Homo sapiens: one gene and its partners. The protein of the gene in region 1 purifies or fractionates together with the protein of each later gene. This does not show direct contact. Each region holds a gene or a part of one and is shown in the gene's direction. Other genes may lie near its edges.

Region 1 (3,500 bases):
TAGGGAGAACAACTCCCTATAAAGGAAGAGGTAGTCAGTGTGGTGAGTGGATGGGGTCTCAGGGAAAATGAAATCCCTAGCAGTCGGTGTCAGGGCAGCAGGTCACTAATTGAGTGCAAACCTTTTTTAAAATGTTGTTTATCCCCTACAGGGCATACAAAACCATTGAGGATGAGGACTTGAAGTTCCCCCTTATATATGGAGAAGGCAAGAAGGTAGGCACGTGTGCTTCCCCTGGGTAGAGAGGACAGGGCTCTGTCCCGCCTTCGCTCCACATAGCCCGTGGCAGTCCGTGTGTTCCACTCAGCAGCTTGTGATTTTATAGCCTTGACAGCTTGAAAGCATATCCCATCCATCATCCTTCAGGCCTCCTGTCTTCAGGGTCCAAGGAGTAGTGGGGGTGGGAGGTGGGCGGTGAGCACAAGGGACTCAAGCCAATTTTGTGAAAATAAAGTCCCCCTTCCCAATCCATTTGAATAACTTTTTACAGTGTTTAAACATGAACCACTTTCACACACATCATCTCATTTATATCTGACAACGAGCAAGGAGGCAGGTCAAGCTGGCTGTGTTATATCCATCTGGCAGACGAGGCAGCTGGGACTGTGAGGTTAAAACAGCTCAGGCAGATCACGCAGCCAAGCGAGGGGCAGCTGCGGATGTGGTGCCTTGGCTTTCTGTCTGCTTCGCGCGTCTCAGACTCCACCATGGAAGTCCAGACTTTGCAAGTCTGTTTGCCACTTGCCCCATGGAAGAGAGTCCAAAGCGTCACTGTAATTAGACTATAAGGTCACAGCAACCAGAGTCCAGACTAAGATAACAAAGACCATCATCAGCTCCCAGGGTTCCAGTCAGAATCCAGCACTGAACAGCACGTTGTCGAACCAAAGAAAAGCTGTGGATCCTAAAGTGGTCTCTGAGCAGAGGCCTGGAGGAGGTTGAAATCCTGGAGTGGAGAGCAAGAAGCTTGGAATCTATTTCCTAGTAAGAACAAACACCTTCTGAATCATTGCATTCTTCCTCGGAACACTAATACATTTCAACTCGGTGTGAAGCATTCCAAGTGAAAAATGTGGTCACATTGAGAAGAGTCTTCAACTGATAATTTTTCCAGCATTCGATACGATAGTTTTTATCAAGAAGAAATGACTCAGAAGAAAACCAAAGGATGCCTTCCATGGGCAGAGTGTGTGTGTGTGTGTGTGTGTGTGTGTGTGTCAGAGCAAAAGCAAGAGAACAAACATGGTTAGGTTTTGGGCTCCGTGTAGACCAGCAGTGATTTCAATGCAAAAAGACATCTCAACAGAAGGAGGAATACCAAACACAAATATCTGATCCATGTAGGAATCATTTTTTAAACGAACATACCCCATTCATGAAAATGAACACCTTTCAGATCACAGTCTCTGGTTAAGAATCGTGTCAGGGCTAATAGGCACTGTTCTGATATAAATATTTGTGCCTTTTGGTACAATGGGCACCATTAATGAGTATCATTCAGCCCAATGACCTATGCCTGCAGCTCCATTTCTTTGTGGGGCTGAGATTCTCTGTATTACCCTTTAATATCCAGTGAGTTCCAGTAAACTCAGGAACACATTCTGTTACCCCTGTATCTCTAGTTCCTGTCTAGCCTGGTACCTGACATAAATGCATAAGTATTAAATAAGCTGTTCAGTTATGTTCAGTATACTTTCCTTAGTACAATAGGAAAATGGAATGATGTATTCTTGGAAGTTTATAGCAGTAAGATTTGAAGGAGCAAGAGTTTTCTAATTTTAGTATAAAGTTCAATTCACCAAAACATCATGTTCCTCAAGCATTTCAGGTAATTTAAGCTTGATGGTCTTGCGATGGGCAGGTGGCAAGTTCTGTCCGTGTACCTGTTGGCCTATTTAAAAGCCACCATGTCTCCATTTTGCTTTTGTTGGTAGATACCACCCCTTTCTGAGGACTCCATGAGTTCTTGGAGCTCCTTCTAGATCCTGGACTGGGATTTTCTCTTTCTTCTCCGCGTACCCCTACGCAGAAATTTCAGAGTACTTCTGTGGCCATTACTTCTCATTTTCTTTCTTCAGATGCTTTTAAAGACTGGTGTGGGTAACACCTGGATACTTCGTAAACAAGGTCAGTCACTAGCAGAAACATCAGATTTCTTTGGCTGGAAAGAGCACACAGAGAAGCCGCCATTTCAGGGAGGAGAGCAGGAGAGCCACAAGGGACTCAGAATTTTTCACATTTAGAGTTGAGCACTTCTTGGCTAGAAGGGAGCCAGTCCAGCCTCCCAGCAGGGCAGAGGGCCCCAGGCTTTGCTTTGCATCACTTTTTTTTTTTTTTTTTGAGACATGGCATCAGGCTGGAGTACGGTGGCACAATCTCGGCTCACTTCAGGCTCGACATCCCAGGATCAGGTGATCCTCCCACTTCAGCCTCCTGAGTAGCTGGGACTACAGGCGCATGCCACCACACTGGCTAATTTTTGTATTTTTTGTAGTCAGGAGGTTTTACCACATTGCCCTGGCTAGTCTCAAACTCCTGGGCTCAAGTGATCCTCCTGCCTTGGCCTCCCAAAGTGCTGGGATTACACATGTGAGCTACTGTGTCTGGCTGTGTCTCGTGTCTTTATCCCCTCTGACCCTTGCCCTCAAAAAGGTGTCATGGTTTCATTTCTGCTTAATGTGAACTCTGCCTACCTTCCGAACCAAGGCTGGCTTCAAAATTCACAGCCCTGTTGACAGTCTAGGATGAAGATGAAGACAATATATTAAATTGCAGTGTTTCTTAGCATTTATTTACTTCATCCCCACTCATAGGAGGTAATTACTCTTATCACCCAGGTAATAGAGTGAGGATTCAAGCTCAGGTCTTTGAACCATTTCACTACACCGGATATATTTTTTATGATTAAGGGTTAGGACACTGCTTTCTTCCACCCAGGATGACTTTCACTCCATCCCTCTGTGTCGCCTGTCTTGATGCAATCCACCTTTCTGTGCTAAGTGCCACCTCCTCCGTGGAGCCTTCTCAGTAGAATTTTTACCTCCTCTAAACTTGCATAACCCATTGTCTATGTGTTTTTCAGTACTTAACCATATTTTATGTGTTATTAATTACACATCTCCCTCTTATCTCCCTTACCAAGTTTCTTTTTGGTTTTTTTATTTGTTTGTTTGTTGGTTTGAGACTGAGTCTCACTGTGTCACCCAGGCTAGACTGCAGTGGCATGATCTCAATTCACTGCAACCTCCACCTTCCAGGTTCAAGTGATTCTCATGCCTCAGCCTCCAAGCAGCTGGGATTACAGGTGCCCACCACCATGCCTAGCTAAATTTTGTATTTTTCGTAGAGATGGGGTTTCACCATGTCAGCCAGGCTGGTCTCAAACTCCTGACCTCAAGTGATCCACCTGCCTCAGCCTCCCAAAGTGCTGGGATTACAGGCAAGAGCCACCGCACGTGGCCCCAAGTTTCTTTGTAGTAGGGACGAGGCCTTAGACATTT
Region 2 (3,500 bases), on another chromosome or scaffold:
CTAAAAAGTTAAAGGGCCTATAGCTATTACTTTTACACTGCACTTAGTTTTGTTTGGTTGCAATACTTTTCAAAGTTCATACAACACAGGGTAGAGAATGTTTGCTAGTGTTTTTAAAGCATGTTTTAAAGGATGTTTATCCATTCCTATGGGTTAATCCATAGGATTTATGGATCAATCAACAATCCATAGCAATTATTGCAAATAGTAAATTTTTATAAAGTTTTATAAAGTTTTATAAACTTTTATAAAATATAAATGTTTAAAGAACTCCTAATATTATTAAATGGTAAAAAGAAATAACATGACCCTGGAATAATAACTATGGCCGAACAGTTTTTACTGACACCAGAAAAACTTGTATAGTGGAGTATAGACTACTGTGTATTCAGTAGATATTACATAATTTGATGGTGATTACATGCTGCTACTTAGTTTTTGAAAGACTTTTCAGTCTCAGAATAAATTGCCAAACTTCCCGGAGTATTTTAATTTCTATAATTGTCAGGCAGGATTCCCTTTGCTTTAAATTGTTGCACTCTTATAAAAGACTTAATTAGCTAGTCACTAGCCTGGCCAAGTATTTGTTACAATATGACCATTATCATAGTTATTTAATTACTATAAAGTGAAGAGTTTGACTGGGGTCTAGAATGTGCAAACCATGGTGCCTCATACATGGTCTTTATCCTGAATGTCTGATTTTATTTGTTCAATGAATAAATGCAGATTTGAAATTCTCTGCTGATATATGAAGCTATGACTTCTTGTTTAGACTTTTAAGTATAACAGATACTCTATTGCAGTATGTTTTGTTTGATTTTATTGGATATTTGCTAATGGTGGTAGTGAGTTAGTGATAACGTAAACAAGGTTTTAAAAATCAATATTGAATTTTATTTTCACTCCGAAGTGTACTCATGTACCAAAGAGCTAATAGAAGACTACTTGGAGCCAATTCAGTGGAAATTACTGTTTTAAACAAATATTTAAATTTGTCTAGAGAATATGTTACTCTTGACAGATTTTCTTTTATCTTTTCTAGTAGATCTTCTCAAGTTTTATCATATCTTGTGAGGGAATGTCTGTGTCTAGATAATAGCTGATATGTTGTGAATGATATAAACAACTTTGTCCCTTTTCTAACAGGTAGCAACAGGTTGAAAGTTGTGCCAAGTTAGCAAGCTTTAAGCAACATTTATGTTTTAAATAAATACTAGGCCCTGTAACTCCCTTCTGGATGCAAAATAAGTAGAAAATACTTTATATAAGTCTACCTATAGGCACCCCCCAGAGAACAATACAAGGCAACTTTGAGTTACTGTGAAAATCGCCAGTGTTATGCGCATTTACAGAAGAGAGAAACATTGTGGAGAGCTGGAACTCATTCAACACTGTTGGAATGCCCACCCTGTGCCAGTCACTTCTGGGCCTCAGGGACACTGGCAAGCCAGACATCAATGACAACAAATCTGCCATCATAGAGCTTAGTCTAACGGGGAAGATAGATGGCAGTCACGTAATAACAAATAGATTAGAAAATGCCATCAAGAAAATTAAGCATGGTAAGGGGTGGAGAGTGGTAGAGTGGAGGATGGGGGTGCTGTTTCACACAGGGGCTCTCCAGGGAAGGCACTCCGAGGAAGGACCACGAATTCGTCAAGCAAAGACCCAGGCAAAGGAAAGAGGAAGCAAAAATGAGCCTTCCATATTGGAGGCCTAAGGAGAAGGCTGGTGAGGAGAGGCATGCGTGGGGCAGGCCTGGCAGGCCTCCCTCTGCTGTGCACATGGAGGTTTCACTTGGAGTGATGGTGCTGGCTTCTGTGAAGAACGGACTGCAGTGGGCTCAAGTGATGGCTTTCAAGGTTGTCTATATGAGAGGAGGCACCGACTCTGCCCAGAGTGGTAGCAATGGAAGTATTTTGCAGGGAGGTTACCAGGGGGCAGTGAAGATAAAATACTGCAATATAAGAATTCCCAAGGATGGTTTGAAATATTAGAATTTTGTTTAAGAGTTTTATTTATCAAATTGCAGAAGTGCAAGATTGAAGTAAGATTATGTGGCATCATGTATGGTTTCCTTTTTCTTTTTTGATGTTGCTTATTGTGTTCTATTTTTTTTTTCTTAAGAGGAAATAAACTTTCCATGGGGAACTGAGCCACAAATTATGGTAGCTACTTACTTTTATACTTTTTATGTCAGTGATTAAGCATTTATTATCTCAATTTTTTTAGTCTTTTAGGAATAATTATTATCTATCTACAGTATTATTTACAACTACAATAGTTGTATTTATTATGAAATGCCATTTGGAGCTCTTACTATGACAAACTGCAAAAGGAATATAAATTTTGTTTTAGCTTTTTTTCATTAGTACTGTGTAAATAAAAGAACTATCTGAGAAAATTATGGAAAATGTAATCTCCAGATAAGATGTTTAAATAGCTCATCAGAGTGATTTGGGGAAGCTACTAATTTCACTATTATCAGTTGTAAGACATAAGTTCCTTCTCTCTTCTGTTCTTATACTCAGGACATGTAGCTTCATGCTATAGCTGCTTCCTATTCCAGGAGGCACAGAGAAGTCAGTCCAGATGTCCCAATGGTAACTGAGATCTACATCTGCTTTTGAAACAAAGTTAGTGAAAGATTAGACTTTTAGAAGAATGGCAATCACAAAAGAGTCACCACATCTTCCCCCATCATTTTCATGTTTGCGTATTAAAAAGTAAGTAGCTGGCCAGGTGTAGTGGCTCATACCTATCTATCATCCTGGCACTTTGGGAGGCCAAGGTGGGAGGATCGCTTGAGCCCAGGAGTTTGAGACCAGCTTGGGGAACATGGTGAGACCCTGGACTACAAATATTAAAATTAAAAAAAAAAATAGGCAATGTCTTATTTTTTTGTAGTTGTGAGGGGTATAGCTAGTTAGTTCTGAATTATGCAAAGTATCCGTATTTGATCAGTTTTGTAATCATTATCAAGTATATCAAAGCAGGGTAAAGGAGACAGAGGAAAGTATTTATCTGCTCTACCCATTTAAGAAGGTCATTTGTAAGCCCTGCTTTTTCACACTAGCATTTAAGTGCTAAACCTACCAGAATAGTGCAGCTAAGGGAAACAGCATTGGCTTTTTTGTGTGTGTTTTTGTTTTTTTGAGACGGAGTCTCGCTCTGTCCCCAGGCTGGAGTGCAGTGGCACGATCTTGGCTCACTGCAAGCTCCGTCTCCCGGGTTCACGCCATTCTCCTGCCTCAGCCTCCCGAGTAGCTGGGACTACAGGCGCCCGCCACCACGCCCAGCTAATTTTTTTTTGTATTTTTAGTAGAGATGGGGTTTCACCGTGTTAGCCAGGATGGTCTTGATCTCCTGACCTCGTGATCCGTCCGCCTCGGCCGCCCAAAGTACTGGGATTACAGGTGTGAGCCACCGTGCCTGGACTTTTTTTTTTTTTTTTTTTTTAATACAAGGTCTTGCTGTGTAGCCCAGGCTGGTCTCAA
Region 3 (3,500 bases), on another chromosome or scaffold:
CACTTTATGGTGTTGTCTTTATGGAAGACAACATCCTTATTCATTGGAGATGTATACTGAAGTGTTTCAGAGTAAAGTGTCATGATATGTTCAGATGAGTTACTTTCAGATGGCTTAGCAAATAAGTAAATTTAATGTATTATCTACATACATTAAATTTATGTGTATATATAGATATATACATTGATGTATATATATCAGTGTATATCTATATACATATGTACATTAATATATTATCTATATCCAAATAGAAAGCAAATGTGGCAAAATATGAACAATTGTTGAATCTAGGAGGATATACCGGTGTTCATTGTACTCTTCTTTGAACTTTTCTATATATATGAAAAAAGGATATATATATCCTTTTTTAAAAAGGAAGGGGATAAATAGTTTTGCTGAGTGGCAGTTGCCTGGTAGAAGTGTGACAGCTCCTGTCCAGGGGGAGATGGCTTTGGTGCTTCCTGAGGAAGAGAGAGGTGATCTGGCCCTGGCATACCTGAGTGAGGCATCCTAATGTGTATGAAGGGACAAAAGTTCACCCTTGTGGACCCCACAGGCCGGAGGCCCAGCTCTACTTGTGCCTTGTTTTATGTTTTGTTTCAGGTGCCGCTCAGTGGAATTGGATCTCAACCAAGCACATATGGAGGAGACTCCAAAAAGAAAGGGAGCCAAAGTGTTTGGGAGCCTTGAAAGGGGGTTGGATAAGGTTATCACTGTGCTCACCAGGAGCAAAAGGAAGGGTTCTGCCAGAGACGGGCCCAGAAGACTAAAGGTAAGCAGGCTGGAATTCTTTCATATGGAGCAGAAGCTGACTGCTAATGGACTGCCTTTTTTTTTTAAGGTGCTGAATGAATTGATTAGTGTTTTTTATTTGAGTATTTATTCACTTAGTTAATATATGTTTTTTGAGCAACTAAAATCTGCATGTTACTGTGCAGTCAGTAAATAGATACAGTCACTCCCTTCAAGGAGCAAACAGCTATCATTCAAATATTCAAGAACAGGTGGAGGGATTAGTCACAGGGGCAACATGGAGGTGAGGAAGCAGGGGGCACAGATGGAGAGCTGAGAGCTGCCTTAAGGAGGGGGACTTGAGCTCAGTTGTGTCCCTGATTCATGGATACTTTGTAGGCCCTCATGAAATATTTGAATGCATGGGAAGATAATTGGAACTTTGAGTGTGGTGTGTGTCAGGAAAATAGTGAGTGACAAGCGGGGAAGGTAGGCCGGAAGGGCCTCAAGGCCTGGCTAAGAAGGTGTGGATCTTATTTAATAGACCCAGTATGCTTTAAAAGGGTTAATGTGTCACTGGTGTGGACAATATATTTAGTCAAGGAAGGAAAGGAAAAATAAGCTGTTAGTTGATATAAAGTACTTTTTATTCTCTTGGATTCTCTCTGAGCATTCATTCAAACATCTGATGAATACATGTTTGTTTGGTGGAAGGGGAGTAATTAAGAGGTAAAGGGACGAATGAGACAGCCCATTCCTTGAGGAACTCTTAGGCTGGCTGTGAAAACAGGCTGGGATGTTGTTCTGAAACACTGGGCTCAGTGCTATAGTAAAAACACATTCCAAGAGGTGTGGGCCCAAGCAGGGGAGAAGATGGTAGTGTGCCCATCATTTGGGGACTGGGTCTATGTTTAGTTTTTGCACTGAGACTCTCGTAATGAGCAAATCTGGGCGGTTTGAGGGAAGGAAAATGCTGAGCTTTTGGGCAGAAGGGTGTTTTAGAGGAGAATGTTCTGTGATCTCATTTCTGTTCTGTCTTAAAGTGGAAGAAGATAGGAGTTATCCACTAGCAGTCATTACCTTGAACTTTTGTAGTGTGCTGAGACGTTACATATGGCTGTGTATTAGGCATATTTTATCCTTTTGTTCTGAAATTTCTCTGGTTGGAGATAGTTAAGTATTTCAAGCACCGACACTGAGATTTAAAAAAACCATAGTACCATTGCACTGAAAAATGTTAAATAAAATTAAGGAAACTAGTTCAACCACATATATACACATTATTGAGAAGCTAAGCAGTTACCAAATACTAACGGATAATGTTCTAAAAATGGTCAGTTATGTAAATATTTTGGAACCTGAATGCATTTTTCAATAGAAACTACTGTGGTGTTAGTTGGCTTTCTAGGTAGTTCTCCAGTACTTCCAGAATGTAGGAGAAAAACCACAGGATTGGGAATGAGAAGACCTGGGTTCTGGCTCCAGCTTTGTGCTGTATAGCTTTGATAAATCATTTTATTCCTGATCTCCTCAGTGTCTTCATTTGTAAAATCTGGAAATAATGCCTACCCTGGCAACCTCACACGGCTGAGATGTAGAAACAAGACTCTACATATGGGATGCTACATGGCATATTAAATGCTTTATGAGTATAAGGTGACATGTTTCCAATGTCAAGGATTACTATCAGTGTTGAGCATTTTACCACCCATGTATAGACCCATGGTCCTAATTAGCACAGTCCTAAGATTGAAAACTTTAACTTTAGATCATTAACACTTTTTAATGCTTTTAAGTTTTTGCAAAACTGAAGGACTTTCTTTGGGAAATTAACCTTATTTTTTTTCACCTACTTCAAATACTGTACTAAAAACTATACACTTACCGGAAGAGTTGCAAGGATAGTAGAAATAATACCTTAGTTTTTTAAGATAGCAAATCATATGTAGTTATGTCCTCTTTTAGGAAGCAGTCTATAAAAAATCCAAAATTTAAGTAGATAAATTAGGATTCATTCTTTATTTTACCAAAGCAGTAATATATTGTGATTTGAAGGTGTTCAGTTTATTATTAATATCATCTTAACAGAGCCAATTTAGTTTGGTGAAAAGAGTGCTGGATCAGGAACCAAGAAAGAGAGGGTCCCTTCGTTAACACTCAGTTTCACGACATTTGCTCTATGGGTGTATTGGGTGCACTATTATTTATCTGGTATTTTCATTATGTTGACTCTCCTTTAACAAATGGATTTATAGAGATATAACTGACATATAATAAACTTGCACATATTTTATTTTATTTTATTTGTTGTTAATTTTTTGAGGCAGAGTCTTGCTCTGCTGCCCAGGCTGTGGTGCAATGGCATGATCATAGCTCACTGCAGCCTCAACCTTCTGGGCTCAAGTCATCCTCCTGCCTCAGCTTCCTGAGTAGCTGGGATGCGTGCTACCACACTTGGCTAATTCTTAATTTTTTTTGCAGAGACAGGGTCTCACTATGTTACCCAGGCTGGTCTTGAACTCCTGAGCCCAAGTAATCCTCCTGCCTTGGCTTCCCAAAGTGCTGGGATTACAGTCATGAGCCACTACACCCGGCCAACTGTGCATATTTTAAAGTACAATTAATATGCTTTGGCATTATATATAACATCTGTGAAACCATTGCCACAATCAAGATAATTTTTTAAAACTCAAATTTATTTAAAAGGAAACCTTTATATCATTAGGGTTTTTTTGTTGTTGTTGTTAATTATGTTTTCGAAATCAGTT
Region 4 (3,500 bases), about 44 Mb from region 1:
TTGGAATCGTCCAGCTTCATCAGAATATGACCACAATTACCTTTTTTTTTTTTTTTTTTTGGTGCTTCTGTGTATATTCCTGGGTAATAGAGGATTATTGGTCATTAGCTATGTGGTACTTAAAGTTTTGATCTTTGATTATCTGTGCTGAGAGATAACAAACAAAAAAAAATCTGAGTTACGTGAACATCTTTTTTTTTTTTTTTTTTTTAGTGAACCTTGTTCATGTATATTTTGACCAGGGCTGTTTATAGGTAGCAAAAGTGATGTAAAGCTAGGCACAATTTGATAAACAATGACGGTCAGGGAGTAAAAATAGAAATAGTTACTGAATATTTCATGAGCATATATTGGAGCATTGTTTGTATTTTTGCCTCAGTTTATTTAAATATGTCTAAGTCAAGATGTTTTATTGATATGTTTGTTTAAAAAAGGCTTTTAGTAGAGCTTGAGAGAAAAGATGACCAGTCAGTCCCAATCTTAAAACCAGTTCTTTAGAATATTAAACTAATTTATGTTCAAACTTAATAACTTAGTACTACTTGGAGACAAATACAAAGCTGGAGGTCAACATCATGTAGGAAAAATTTTAATCCCCCAACGAAAAATATGGGTGGTTTTGTCTTTTTATTTTTATATTAGAAACTATTTACCTAAGAGTTTGTTTTTATTGTTTAACCTTATTTGTTCTTTAATTTTAATAAACTGAGACATGAAAGAGAATGCTGAAATGCCAAACTGGGTTAAGACTTCAGTAGTTTATAAACAATAACAGATACCTAGCTAAAGTTACCTTTATTTCATTGAGCCTAGAAAGTTATTTTTACTGTGACATTTTTAAGATCATGTTATACTTCCAGTAAATTATAATTACCTGTATGGTTCTTTAATCTTTTAGAAAGATACTTAGATAAAACGTCAAGGGCTTTTTTATAAGTATTAGGAATGCTTGCTTTTGGATGTAGAAATAGAGAAAGCAGAAGATACAGGAATGGAATAGTTTCATGGTATGGTCTTTCTGTGAATATTTTTGGGTGAAATCTTTTCTTTGGAGATTATACTATACATTATTAGATGGCCTAAAAAAATACTTGAGTGAAATGCAGTCATCAAATGTTTTTCTATTGGTTATTTCCATCCTAAATTAAAGTGAGTTGATATTGCCACGAAAAGGGATACTTCTTTTCTTGTCAAGCTAGTAGTATGGTATATGTGAAGAAAAACAGTTTTTTCATTTCAGGTCATTTATTCAATGTAATTTTGACTACTGTACATTAAGCCTAGCTCATCTTATAAAAACAGAGGTAACATTTCAATTTTCAATAACATTTTAATTTCTTTGCGTGCATTCTTGGATGAATGTTTATTTGATAGTACAAAATCTTATTCTGTGTGGGCTGAGTATGTATGTTTTAATTTAGAACTAAGCTGTTAGGAAGACATTGAGTGAGTTTCTTTTGTTTTACGAGCCATTTTGATTAGGTTTTCTTTTATGTTTACTTAAACAAATTAGAATTTTATTTGAGTGCCATGTCTAATGCCTAAGTAGGTTTCTCTGGAAAATTAAGACAATATTAAGAAAGCTATAATAATTTTACTTTAAAGACATTTTTAAACTTGTAGGTTTTAATCATTTTGGTATTCATAGCCAGTAATTGTGTCCAAAAGTAGCAATAAATAACTTATAATATTATGGAAGTAATTTCTCCTAAAATTGAGCATAGTGTTGCATATCACTCATTAAACTTTTAAAAAAACTAACCATTGATAAATATATGATGTACTGAATGTTAGGTGCTACTGCTTTATCTTCTGGGTAATGTCAGAAGACTAATTTCTTTTAAGGTTAGTTAAATCCCTAATGTGCACTGTAATTTCCTAGAAACTTTTTACTTGTTTGTATTGTTATTTATCATTCTAATAGGATAGGGGCACTACTTTTATCTTAAACTTTACAATTTAGAGTACCTTCACATACATTATTCATTCATGAAGTAGTCAGAGTTACTACTCCCATTGTCACACACATAATAAAACAGCAGAAACATGCCTTTGGAACTTACAGTTTGCAAAGACAGCAGGATGAGAAACCCCAGGAACATAAACTATATTTAGAATATTCAGAGTGGAGGAAAAGATAGGAGTCTGAAGTAGGAAAGTGATTCGTGTTGGTGGCTATAGTTTTTCATTGTCATTTCTTTCTCAGATGAAGAAAGGTGGTTATTGATCAAATTGTATGTAAAGGAGGTTACAGGGTTATCGGGGTGGATTTTGTTCACATGGGAAGTGGAAAGATAGGAATGCCAATAAAAGACATGTCAGCCCTTTGACTATTCCTAATCCTGTGTTCTGGAAAGTTCTCACTGCAAGAAGGGAGACCTAAAGAATTTCAGTTGTTTCTGCTTCCATTGTGAAGTGAAATATATATAACTCTTAAATTATTCCTCTCCTGGACAAATGTTGGTTGGTGTTAAAAATGGCAGGTTACCAGAAAGAATTTATCTCTTAATTATATTTTGGTATTGACACTTGCATCTCTGTAGGTGGTAAGAGGAGAGGATTGTAGTGGGGAAGTCATAGGAACTGAAATGTGGTCTTGACCTTAATGACTTTGGAGCTCAGTCTTCACGTCTTTAAATTAGGTTACCTGGAAAAGGCAACCTCTAAATTCCATTTCTAAATTTCTTTGAATTTTGTACTGTTCTGGGATTTATAATATTCTGGAAAACAAGGAACTCACAATGCCAAGCAGAGATGATGCGGGAAATATGGAAAGCTAGCTTTTCTATCCTTCTTAACTATTTTATCCTCCCTCTTTAAGCTTTGGATAGACAATCACAGATAAGTATGATGTATGTAGTGCCAGGGTTGTGTGTACTTTCTTTTGCTGCTTTTTGTGCTTACGTTTCCTTGTAAAATGTTTGTATACATATCTTCATGTAAACAGATAGTACTGCTAATGTAAACAAAGGACCTGATCAGCGTAAGAGTTGTATAGGTTTGAGTTAATCAGTTTATTTTATACACTTTGAAATTGGTTCTTTAATACAAGTTTGCAGCTAGATTAAAAAAATATGTAATATAGAGAATGTATTTTCCTTCACATCCATTTGGCCAAAAAACAGTAAAATATGAAAAATCTTACTTTGTTTTTTTTTTTTTTTTTGAGGGGGGTTTCACTGTGTCACCCAGGCTGGAGTGCAGTGGCTCTATCACAACACACTGCAGCCTTGACCTCCTGGGCTTAAGCGATCCTCCCACCTCAGCCTTACGAGTAGCTGGGACCACAAGTGTGTACCACCATGCCTGGCTAATTTGATTGATTGATTGATTGAGAGAGACAGGGTCTTCCTATGTTGCCCAGCCTGATCTTGAACTCCTAGGCTCACGCAATCCTCCTGCCTTGGTCCCCGAAAATGGGGGATTATAGGCATGAGCCATGGTGCCTGGCCAAAAATCTTTATCTTTAAAGATATTTAATACTTTTTTTCTGAATAATT
Region 5 (3,500 bases), on another chromosome or scaffold:
AAACTCCCAAAGCATTGCTTTTAACTACTCTAGTAAAGGAATGGATCCACAAGATTTGGAGGCCAGGCTGAGGCTGGGTTAGAGCTAGGGACCGGGGCTGGGGGCAGGAATAGCCCTTGGTCTTTTGAGTATAGCTCACCCAAGTCATTGCTTGGAATCCCAGGATGGAGGTGAGCACACTTCCTTGGCCTCCAGATGTTGACAGCACCTTACCCTAGGGTTGGCTCAGACTCTGGGCTCATGCGTGGAGGGTCCCAAGAACAACGTAAGGTAGGAGGTTTATGTGGTGCAGGAAACACTGCCATGGCTTTCATCTGCCCACAGAGCACCATGGACAAGCTGGAGAGGGAGAAGATGCCCCGGAAGGGTGGGCGATGGTGGTTTTCCTGGCGACGCAGGGACTTCCTGGCCGAGGAGGTGGGTGGTCACAGTCGAGGGCCAGGGCCAGGGCCAGCACAGGGCGGGAGGTGGGATTCACTAATGGATGTTCTTTCCACAGCGCAGTGCCCAGAAGGAGAAGACTGCAGCCAAGGAGCAGCAGGGGTGAGTGAGACCCCCTATTGGGGCTCTGCAGGGGGAGCCTGGGAAAGATGGCCCTGGGTGCAGGTGGGTGGCAGGGAGGAGCCAGCACCCTGTCTCCAGCTGTGGGTTTTTTTTTTTGTCATTCCTCAAGCACCAAGCACTTCTTTTTTTGTTGTTTTTGTTTGTTTTTGAGACAGAGTCTGGCTCTGTCACCCAGGCTGGAGTGCAGTGGTACGATCTTGGCTCACTGCAACCTCCACCTCCCGGGTTCAAGCGATTTTCCTGCCTCAGCCTCCTGAGTAGCTGGGATTACAGGTGCCCGCCACCACACCTGGCTACTTTTGTATTTTTAGTGAGACAGGGTTTCACCCTGTTGGTCAGGCTGGTCTTGAACTTCTGACCTCAGGTGATCTGCCCACCTTGGCATCCCAGAGTGTTGGGATTACAGGCGTGAGCCACCGCAAGCACTTCTATACCTTTTCTTTCTCCTGAGAAATGGCCCCATTTTACAGATGGGAAAAATGAGGCCTAGAGACACATTTCCTGGCCAACAACCAGGAAATGGCAGAGCTGACACAGGTCCTCAGGCTCCTGCCCCAGACAAGGGGATCCCTATTAAGGAGGGGCAGGGCCTCTCGCAGCCCAAATAAGCCAGCTGACTTTGTTTCTTTTCCACATCTGAAGTGACCCAGCTGCCTAAGGCTGGGTGGAGAGTAGCTAAGGATGGCCTGACTGAAACCAAAGCAGGTGGGGTTGGGAATAAGCCCAGAGATACACTTTAGGTATTTCAGGTAAATATCTCCAAGGCAGACACTGAGGGCTGGCAACCCTGGGTCTCGGCACCCTCTGCTGTCACTTGGCTGGGTGGAGACTGCCAGCCTGCACCCCTGTGTCTGCCACCACTCCAAATGGGTTGCACCTAGAGGGAGGGATCACTGATACCCTGGGTAGGCCCTGGCATGGCGGGGACAGGTCCAGCCTCCTCTTGGCATCTCCCGGGAGTGAAGGCCCTTTGGCTGGAGGAGATGGCCTGAGAGCCAGTGTGGTCCACAGGGAGAAGACAGAAGTCCTGAGCAGTGATGACGATGCCCCAGACAGCCCTGTGATCCTGGAGATCCCCTCCTTGCCACCCTCCACTCCACCCTCCACTCCTACCTACAAGAAGTCCCTCCGCCTCTCCTCCGATCAGATCGTAAGTGTGGGTTGTCTGTGTGGAGGTTGGGGAGGGGCTGAGCTAATTCTGTCTTAGAGTCCCTCAGGACCTGGCTGAGAAATGGCTCCAGGGAGCCACATGTTCACCAAAGGCCAGAATCTATCCCCTTGGGAGCCTCCCTGATGGCCTCCACTTGAATACCTCCAAGGGCAGGGCGCTCACTTCTCATGACAGCCCATTTGTCTGTCAGACACCGGGAAAGCTGTCTCTTAGGTCCTCCTAAGATATCAACCTGTAGTGAGCCAGCAGGCTCTAGGTCAGCCCTTGGAAGCAACACTAAAAAGAATCAAATGCTAATGACAGCCCCTCAGATTCTGGCAACCCTTGGCCCCAAGTCACCTCTTCTCTAAGCTCAGTAACTGGTGGCTCCTGGAATAAGAACATATTTTCTTCATGGTTGTGGCTCCATGGTCAGGGAAGTGTCCAGGAGGGGCTGACCAGCCAGTACAAAGCAGCTGCCATCTGTCTGGTACCCTGGAGCTCACACTCAACTCAGGGCTTTGGTGGGAAGCGGCCCTGATCCTTCCCTATGGATCAAGTACAGGGTTAGGCCTCTCCTTAGGACAATGTTGACTCAGGTACCCTGGCCCCAAGGAGGGGCTTCCTATGGAGATCCCCACAGGACCCCCATCTATGGAGGGGGGTGTTTTCCTGCCAACAGCAGTCCCAGCCTTGGGGCTGGCCTGGGAATCCTGGGCAGGGAGTCATGGATGCGGCTTTGTGGGTTACATCTCAAAGGGGAGTGAAGGGAGGCTAGGGCTCCTGTGGCCTGCACTGGACAGGGCCCTGATCAGCATGGCCACCCTCTGCCCACATGGATGTGTCTGTGCATGGCTATCTCTGATGAATCCAAGAAGCATCTCTGAGCTGGGAGGAAGAGGAGAATGAGAGGCCCGAGGGGATCGGAGGCCACGGCGTAAGGGGAGAGGTAGGCAGTGCCTGGCTGTCATCAATCACGACACACCCCCCTTTGTCTGGCCTCAGCGGCGCCTGAACCTGCAAGAAGGTGCCAATGATGTGGTCTTCAGCGTGACCACTCAGTACCAGGGCACCTGCCGCTGCAAGGCCACCATCTACCTGTGGAAATGGGACGACAAGGTGGTCATCTCTGACATCGACGGCACCATCACCAAGTGAGGCCCACCCAGCTGTGGGAAGGGGAGGGAGAGGGGTTGTGGACTCGCCTCCCTCTGTGCTGGGTGTGGTGGGGAGTGAGAGGAGCCCTCCCTTCCTGGTGGGCCATCCTGGGGCTGGAGCTGGGCCACGTGGAGCTGCCTTGGAGTAACCCTTCCTCTCTCACTCTAGGTCAGATGCTCTGGGCCATATCCTGCCCCAGCTGGGGAAAGACTGGACACACCAGGGCATCACCAGTCTCTATCACAAAATCCAACTGTGAGTGCCTGGGCTGGGGCTGGGGCTGAGGCGAGGCCCCCAGCTCTAGAGAGGGAGTGACAGGACAGGACATCTTGGGGACCAGCAGGGCCCACAAGGCAGGCTGCCAGGGCAGGTGCCTGGAGTGCTGAGACCTCTCTATTGGCCCGCAGTTCTGGGAAAGGCTCATCCCCTGGGGCTGTGTTCTAGGATCAGGGCCCACCTACTGGCCTGCAGCCGGAGGGGAGGCCCTCTCCATCCTGGTCCACCCAGGCCTCAGGACTCTGTGCACCGTCCAGCTGAGTCCACTGCCTGGCCGTTCTCTTCAAGTCCCCTCCCTGCAAAGGTTGGAACATCAGAGTCCCACAGTTGGGCTGGGCAGGCTAAAGCCAGA
Region 6 (3,500 bases), on another chromosome or scaffold:
AGTCTTGATCTTCCATCAAAGGAGCTCCCAGTCTTGTTGATAATAAGATGCACATGTGAGTTCATTGGAAGAATATATGTACCTAGTGCACTGATGGCAGCCAATCATGAATTAAAGAAATGGGGGTGGAATTTGAGAACAGCACAGAAGACAGCACAAGCAGGCCCCTTGGCTCCAAGTTCCACCGGGGTGACGTGGAGGAATCCAGATGGGTGCTGCACATACAGTGGGTTTGTGTCGGCATCTGAGGATCACTGAACTTGGGGAATCCGCTGCAAAGTCTCTGATTTAGATGACTAGGTGAATGCTGGTGTCATTAACTGAATCAGAAGCACAGGAGAAGCAGGTTTTAGGGTGGAGGTGTGGGAAATGATGAGTTCTAGTCTCAGTCAACAGTGTGTCGTCAGTGCTTATGTGCTGTGTACCCTGCCTGCAACTATGAATAAGATGCAGTGTGTGCCTGGAAGCAACTCAGCACAATTGAGTTTTAGGTGTCTGAAGTGCAGCCAGGTGGATGGATCCAGAAGGCCATTGTGAATATGAGTCTGAAACGAAGGGACTGGACGTAGGTGTAGATTTCGGAGTCATTACTGTAGGTAGAAGATAGAGCACCTCAGGTGTGTCTGTGACAGAGGCGGTCACAGAGGCCAAGAAGAGCAACCTCAGGAGAATCAGGTGAAAGCAATGTTGTGGATGCCTAGGGAGGAAAAATGTGTCAAAAGAGTGAAAGGTGAAAGCAATCACATGTCACAGGAATGGCCGCGTGATTAACACAGAATTGTGTTCAGTGGATTTGGCATTATGATGGTCAGTGTTCATTTTCAGGATAATTTCACTGAAACGAATTAATTGGTATTGGGCATTGGCAGTGGGCTGAGGAGTGAGTGGGCGTGCCAGTATGGAGGCAGCGAGTCTCAAGAACATTCCTCTGAGAAACTCCAGGTAGAAGGGGAGGGTTCAGAGTGGTACCTGGAGGGGTAGGTACCTTTTTTTAAAAAAAAAAGTTTTGGGGAGATATTTGAACCTTGTATAGATAGAGCCAATAGATAGAAGTTTTTGAAATATGGGAGGAAGAGAATAATTATATAATGGGAAAGCCCAGGAATTTCAAGCTTAATTTTCTTGATGGGGTAGAATGTGAGGTTATTGAAAGTAGGAGGAATTGGGTGAGCTGGGGTCTTCTGAGTAGTGAATGTGTAGGAATGTGGTTGAAGGACCCTAACTGTATTTTCTATCTATTGAGGGTACTGGGGTCATCCATTCCGAGTTTTTTCTTCTTGGTTTTTAGATATAAGTCACATCCCCAAAGTGTACCATTCACTGGGTTTTAGTTTACTCACAGACTTGTGCAGCCATTATTAGTATACAATTCCAGAACATTTTCATCACCCCACAGAGGAACCTTGTAACTGTTAGCAGTCAGTCTCCATTTCCCACTTCCCAGCCCCTGGCAACCACTAATCTACTTCCTGACTCTATGGATTTGCTTATTCTGGACATTTAATACATGGAATCCTATATTATGTGGACTTTTGTATCTCACTTCTTTCACTTGGTATAATGTATTCAGGGCTCATCCATGTTTTGTCATGAATCAATACTTCATTCTTTTTATAGCTGAACAACATTCTGTTACACAGATATGCTGTGTTTTGTATTCATTCATCAATTGATGGGCATTTGGCTTGTTTCCAATTTTTGGCTATTATGAATGATGCTCCTTTGAACATTTATGTACAGGCTTTTGTGTAGACATGTGTTTTCATTTTTCTCAGATACGCATATGTATAGGAGTGGAATTTCTGAGTCATATAGTAACTAACTTTTGAGGAACTGTTTTCCAAAGCATATGAACCATTTTACATTCCCATAGAAATGCATGAAGGTTCCACTTTCTCCACATCCTCACCAACACTTGTTCTTGTCTCTCTCCATGAGTATTGCTATCCTAGTGGGTATGAGGTGGTATCTGATTGTGGTTTAGATTTGCCTTTCTCTGGTAGATAATGTTGAGCGTCTTTTCATGTGCATATTGGCCGTTTGTATAGCTTGAGAGAGATCTCTATTCACATCTTCCCCTTATTTCAAAAACTATATCTTTTTATTACTGAGTTGTAAGACTTCTTCATACATTCTGTATACCATTCTGTTATCAAATAGATGATTTGCAAATATTTTGATTTTATGGGTTTCTTTTTCACTCCCTTGTGTCCTTTGATGCATGAAAGTTTTAAATTTTGATGAAGTCCAGTTTATTTTTAGTTGCTTGTGATTTTGCTGTGATTTCTGAGAAACCATTATCTAACATCATGTGGATTTTCATTTGTTTTCTTCTAAGAGTTTGATAGGTTTAGCTCTTACATTTAGATCTTTGATCCAGTTGGAGTTTTGAATGTGGTATGAGGTAGGGATCCAACTTCATTCTTTGGCATGTGGATATCCAGTTGTTCTAGAACCATTTGATGAAAAGACTGTTCTTTCTCCATTAGATTGTCTTGGTACCCTTGTCAAAATCAATTGACCATAACTGTGACAGTATGTTTCTGGACTCCCAATTCCATTCCATCAATGTATATATGTCTTTCCTTATGTAAGTACCACACTGTCTTGATTACTCTACCTTTGTATTAAGTTTCGAAACTGGGAGTCAAGTCCTCTGACTTTGTTTTTCTTTTTCAAGATTGTTTTGGCTATTCTAGTTCTGCCTTAAGCGGGTTTTTTTTTTTTTTTTTTTTTTTTTTTGAGACAGTCTCACTCTTCTCACCCAGGCTGGAGTGTAATGTCGTAATCTTGGCTCACTGCAGCCTCTGCCTCCCAGATTCAAGCAGTTCTCCTTTCTCAGCCTCCTGAGTTTCTGGGATTACAGGTGCCTGCCACCCTGCCTGGCTAATTTTTGTATTTTTGGTAGAGATAGGGTTTCACCATGTTGGCCAGGTGCCTTATGAGTTTTTTAAATACCTGTTTCTTAGTCTTCTGAGGTTGATTGGTTTCTTTTTTAAACTGTTTATTTGTTTAGAGATGGAGTCTCATTCTGTTGCCCAGGCTGAAGTGCAGTGGTGTGATCATAGCTCACTATGACCTTGACCTCCTGGGCTCAAGATGTCTTCCCACCTCAGCCTCCCAAAGTGCTAGGATTACAGGCATGAGCCACTGCACCCAGCTGATTCATTTCTTGAGTATGAACATTTTATGTTTTTGGTCACATAGGATTATTTTATTTGTTTTCAGATATGGGGTCTTGCTCTGTTGCCCAGGCTGGAGTGTAGTAGCACAATCATAGCTCATCACAGCCTGTAACTCATGGGCTCAAATGATCCTTCCATCTCAGCCTCCTGAGAAGCTGGGCTACAGGTGCATGCCACTACACCTGGCTAATTATTTTTTTTAAATTTGTTTTAGGGACAGGTTCTTGCTGTGTTGCTCAGGCTAGTCTTGAACTCCTGGCCTCAAGTGATCCCCCTGCTTCAGACTCCCAAGTAGCTGGGGGATTATTTTAATTA
Region 7 (3,500 bases), on another chromosome or scaffold:
TACCTCAGTGAATAAGACAAGAAAGTTCCATTGTAGTGGGAGAACAGAAATATACATACGAACACATAAATAATATCACATAAAGAAATTATGATGAAAATGGGGATGTAATGAAAATCAGATGAGGGAGGCAATGTTAGATGTGGAGGTCAGGGGAAGCCTCTGTTGGGAGATCTTTGAGCTAAGCCCAGGAGGATTTGGAGATATGTGAAGACTGGAGGAAGGGCAAAGGCCCTGATATGAGGATGAGGGTAATATATTTGTGGGAAAGAGAGAGCCAGTGTGGCTGGAATATAGTAGTTGGGGTGGAGCTGATGGGCAGGGGCCAGATCATGCAGGGCCTTGAAGGCCATGATAAGGCACCTGGATTTCACCTTAAGTGTGATGTTGGGCCATGGAAGGGTTTTAAGCAAGGGAATGACTCATGCCATGTTTTTAAATGATGGCTGCTATGGAGAATAGGCTGGTGGGAAGTTGAGGGTAGGGTTGGGGGTGGAGGGTTGGCAAGAGAGTTCGCAAATGTCCACCAGGTGGGAGGCTGTTTCACTCCCACTTCAGGTGGGAGTGAACCTGGTGGTGTGAATTAAAATGCTCATGGTGGAGAAAGGGAGTAGATTTCAAATGGTGGTGGTAGGTCTGACAGGATTTGCTGATGGATTGGATGGGAGGGCAAAGAAAGAGAACTCCAGGATGATTCCCAGGTATGTGGCTAAGCAACTGGGTGGTGTGGCTGTTTACGGAGATGGGGAAGATGGAGGAAGTTGTGGAAGTGACTGCCTGGACCAGGCAGGGGCTGCTGCTGAGAGGTCAGAGGCAGGACTGCAAAGAGTCTAGATCAGGAATGGCAGGATATTGTATGTGCTGTCCCCCCTCAAGCCCTGCCCCCACTCCCTGGATCATAGTAGATGTTACTGGTCAATTTTGGCACTCTTTATCAACGAGCCCAGACCTGGCCTCAGAATCTTTCTCAGGACCGTCTTGGCATAAACTGTGCAGGTTGTGTCCTTCACACAGGTGCCAGCCAGAGGTGAGAGTCCTGGTCTGGTTTCAGCGGCATCAGGAGGGAGCACGTTTATCTAATTTGTTTGCCTGGAGAGGGTCAGCTTTTTCTAATTTGTGGAAAGGTGTCCAGTGAACTCGTTGGGACTCTACCTAATTATCCTCCATCAGTGCATGAGATAAAACCTATTTGCCATTCATAGTCCTCTGCACTGTCCACATCAGTTACATATGGCTATTTAAATCTTACTTTTAGTTCATTAAAATAAAACAAAACATTAATTCCTTAGTTGCTGTAGCCATATTTCAAGTGCTAGATGGCTACTGAACATTTCCATCACCGCAGAAGGTTTTATTGGACAGAGCTGGTCTAGGTATGTAAATGTTTAAATTCTGCATCCTACCCTCCTCCAAAAAATGTAAATTTTCTCTGTGGAAGGCCTGTTCAAGTTCTGGGGCAGAGGAGATGCTTAGTTTCACTTTGGTCACTCTCCTTTAGGAGAGTGGCTGAGGGTGCTGTGTTCTTTCTCAACCAAGTTCAGCAGGTCCTCAAAAGAGAGACCCATTGATGTTTCAGGGAATGGCAAAAGAGATAGTCGTGGAAGAGTAAATCCAAGAAGACTTTCTGGAGGAAGTGACTCAAGTTGCAAGTAAAGGGGGCTTATTTTAAAATATGTGCTAGGCCCAGGTAGAGATGAGACTTTCCCATATAATTCTCAAACAATGCTACGAAGGAGGTGGAATACTCCCCATTTTACAAACTCAGGTTCCAGGGGTCAAATTCTGTGGGCTTGTCAAGTCCCTAAACCAGGATTTGTACTTAGCCCTGGTGGAGATTCTGAAGGGAAAAAAGGGTAGTGAGAAGCAGAGCAGGAAGTCAGAGACTTAAGAGAGTGGGAGGGGTGGAAGGGATATCAACAGGGGGCCTAATGTGTGTGGGGCCCATGACTCATCCTCTAGCCCCTTGGGATCTGACCCGGGTCCAGCTGACACCCAGCTCTGCGCTCTTTCCCAGGGGAAATGCTGCCCGCTTGGGGAGAGGGTGTGTTTGGGTGGGGAGGGGGCAACAAGGAACTATCCCTGGGTTGGGGAAACGCTAGAAGCACAAGGGTCCAGATCCTGAGCCAGGATTCCCAGTTCCTCTGCCTGAAAGGGTGGGAGCCAGTTTCCTAGGGCGCTCCCGGCCTTGGGCCTTGGGAGAGTGGATTTGGGGCTGGAGATCAGTAGGGAAATAGAGGAGGTGTCTGGACTCGTGGTCCCACTCATCCATGCTGGGCCCAGTGACCTCCCTAGGGCCCCAGCTCTCCCAATTTATACACTATTCGCCCTCCATACTCTCAGGCAAGGGGTCACCTTGGAGGGCAAACGCTACGCGGGAGGGGCCTCCCGGAGCTGGAGCACGTCGTGAAGGCCAGGAGCCTTTTCCAGGGCGGCGCGGGCGCACTCCTGGAGGTCCGGTCCCGCCGCGATGGAGTCTCGGTGGAGGCACCGCCTTGAGCCAAGCCCAGCCAGGTGCCCGGAGGGACCTCCAGCGCCCTGGTACCCCTCAGTTGCTCTCGCGGCAATTGGGAGCTGATGTCACCGGCGTCCTGAGCGCTGCAGCTGGAGGCGGTGCAGCTATGCTGGCGCCCTGGCTCCTCCGATTTCCCGCGGCCCTCGGACCCAGCCGGCTCCCCAGGCCAGTGCAGCTCTCTGGACCTCGCGCGCCTCTGCGCGCCTCTCGCAATGGAGCGGGCTGGGGAAGGATCCGTGAGTGCTGGGACTGGGATGAGACTAGCCAAGATGGGGGTTGAGGACACCTCCGTGTCCCCCTCCTGCCAGGCTCACCCATTTGGGATGTTTGTGGCTGAAGCTGGGTGCAGACTGGGGTGGGGGTTGTCGGGCAGCGCAGAACCCTGGTGCAGACAAAACTAGACTGGGAGGACCTATGTAGTCTGAAAGGGCTTCCTGGTGAGGGGCTTTGGGAAAGGGTTGGCTTATTACAGAAGGAAAACGGGTGGATGGTGATGGGGGAAGGTGATAAAAGTCCGGCCTAGCACAGTGGCCCAGAAAATAGCCAAGGAAGCATCTGTAGGCAGGCAGGACAAGGCTTTTTAGAAGAGGGAATTTAGGGTGTTCGGGTCTGAGAGACTTGAAGGCTGGAGCCACTAGGGACAGATGCAAGGGCACAGTGTATGGAGGAGAGCTGGTGTGAGGAAAAAGACAGGTTTGGAGTGGTCACATTAGTTCCCCTGTTTCAAATGGATGGCTCGACTTGTCTCCTGAACCAATCTGTACACTGTGATAGAGTTAGTCTTCCAACTCCTCTCTGAAGCTTTCCTTGATCACCTCAGCCAGAAGCAAACAGAGGCTGTTTCTTGTGAGCATGGTTGTGCCATGACATGGCACTTATGGAGCAGCCATTAAAGTCATCATCTCTCACCTCCCAGCTGGATTTTAAATGTACAACCTTGGACAGTACAGGGATGCTCCAGTGTTGACTGAGTAAATGCTGCTACCAC

Evidence for each region.
Region 2: the proteins of PPM1H (region 1) and MAP3K21 purify together in Homo sapiens (affinity purification with mass spectrometry, with the first as the bait; one large-scale study listed by BioGRID). This does not show direct contact.
Region 3: the proteins of PPM1H (region 1) and MELK purify together in Homo sapiens (affinity purification with mass spectrometry, with the first as the bait; one large-scale study listed by BioGRID). This does not show direct contact.
Region 4: the proteins of PPM1H (region 1) and PLEKHA5 purify together in Homo sapiens (affinity purification with mass spectrometry, with the first as the bait; one large-scale study listed by BioGRID). This does not show direct contact.
Region 5: the proteins of PPM1H (region 1) and LPIN3 purify together in Homo sapiens (affinity purification with mass spectrometry, with the first as the bait; one large-scale study listed by BioGRID). This does not show direct contact.
Region 6: the proteins of PPM1H (region 1) and KIF13B purify together in Homo sapiens (affinity purification with mass spectrometry, with the first as the bait; one large-scale study listed by BioGRID). This does not show direct contact.
Region 7: the proteins of PPM1H (region 1) and RTKN purify together in Homo sapiens (affinity purification with mass spectrometry, with the first as the bait; one large-scale study listed by BioGRID). This does not show direct contact.

The regions. Positions count from the first base shown.
Region 1 is NC_000012.12:62,690,651-62,694,150, reverse strand, and holds part of PPM1H (protein phosphatase 1H), read left to right. Parts: intron 1-151; coding exon 152-215; intron 216-3,500. UniProt on the Homo sapiens protein: Dephosphorylates CDKN1B at 'Thr-187', thus removing a signal for proteasomal degradation.
Region 2 is NC_000001.11:233,330,724-233,334,223, forward strand, and holds part of MAP3K21 (mitogen-activated protein kinase kinase kinase 21), read left to right. Parts: intron 1-3,500. UniProt on the Homo sapiens protein: Negative regulator of TLR4 signaling. Does not activate JNK1/MAPK8 pathway, p38/MAPK14, nor ERK2/MAPK1 pathways.
Region 3 is NC_000009.12:36,670,395-36,673,894, forward strand, and holds part of MELK (maternal embryonic leucine zipper kinase), read left to right. Parts: intron 1-603; coding exon 604-772; intron 773-3,500. UniProt on the Homo sapiens protein: Serine/threonine-protein kinase involved in various processes such as cell cycle regulation, self-renewal of stem cells, apoptosis and splicing regulation. Has a broad substrate specificity; phosphorylates BCL2L14, CDC25B, MAP3K5/ASK1 and ZNF622.
Region 4 is NC_000012.12:19,132,733-19,136,232, forward strand, and holds part of PLEKHA5 (pleckstrin homology domain-containing family A member 5), read left to right. Parts: intron 1-3,500.
Region 5 is NC_000020.11:41,354,321-41,357,820, forward strand, and holds part of LPIN3 (phosphatidate phosphatase LPIN3), read left to right. Parts: intron 1-324; coding exon 325-417; intron 418-499; coding exon 500-543; intron 544-1,575; coding exon 1,576-1,714; intron 1,715-2,719; coding exon 2,720-2,868; intron 2,869-3,040; coding exon 3,041-3,127; intron 3,128-3,279; coding exon of another isoform or gene 3,280-3,500. UniProt on the Homo sapiens protein: Magnesium-dependent phosphatidate phosphatase enzyme which catalyzes the conversion of phosphatidic acid to diacylglycerol during triglyceride, phosphatidylcholine and phosphatidylethanolamine biosynthesis therefore regulates fatty acid metabolism.
Region 6 is NC_000008.11:29,253,071-29,256,570, reverse strand, and holds part of KIF13B (kinesin-like protein KIF13B), read left to right. Parts: intron 1-3,500. UniProt on the Homo sapiens protein: Involved in reorganization of the cortical cytoskeleton. Regulates axon formation by promoting the formation of extra axons. May be functionally important for the intracellular trafficking of MAGUKs and associated protein complexes.
Region 7 is NC_000002.12:74,435,438-74,438,937, reverse strand, and holds part of RTKN (rhotekin), read left to right. Parts: intron 1-3,500. UniProt on the Homo sapiens protein: Mediates Rho signaling to activate NF-kappa-B and may confer increased resistance to apoptosis to cells in gastric tumorigenesis. May play a novel role in the organization of septin structures.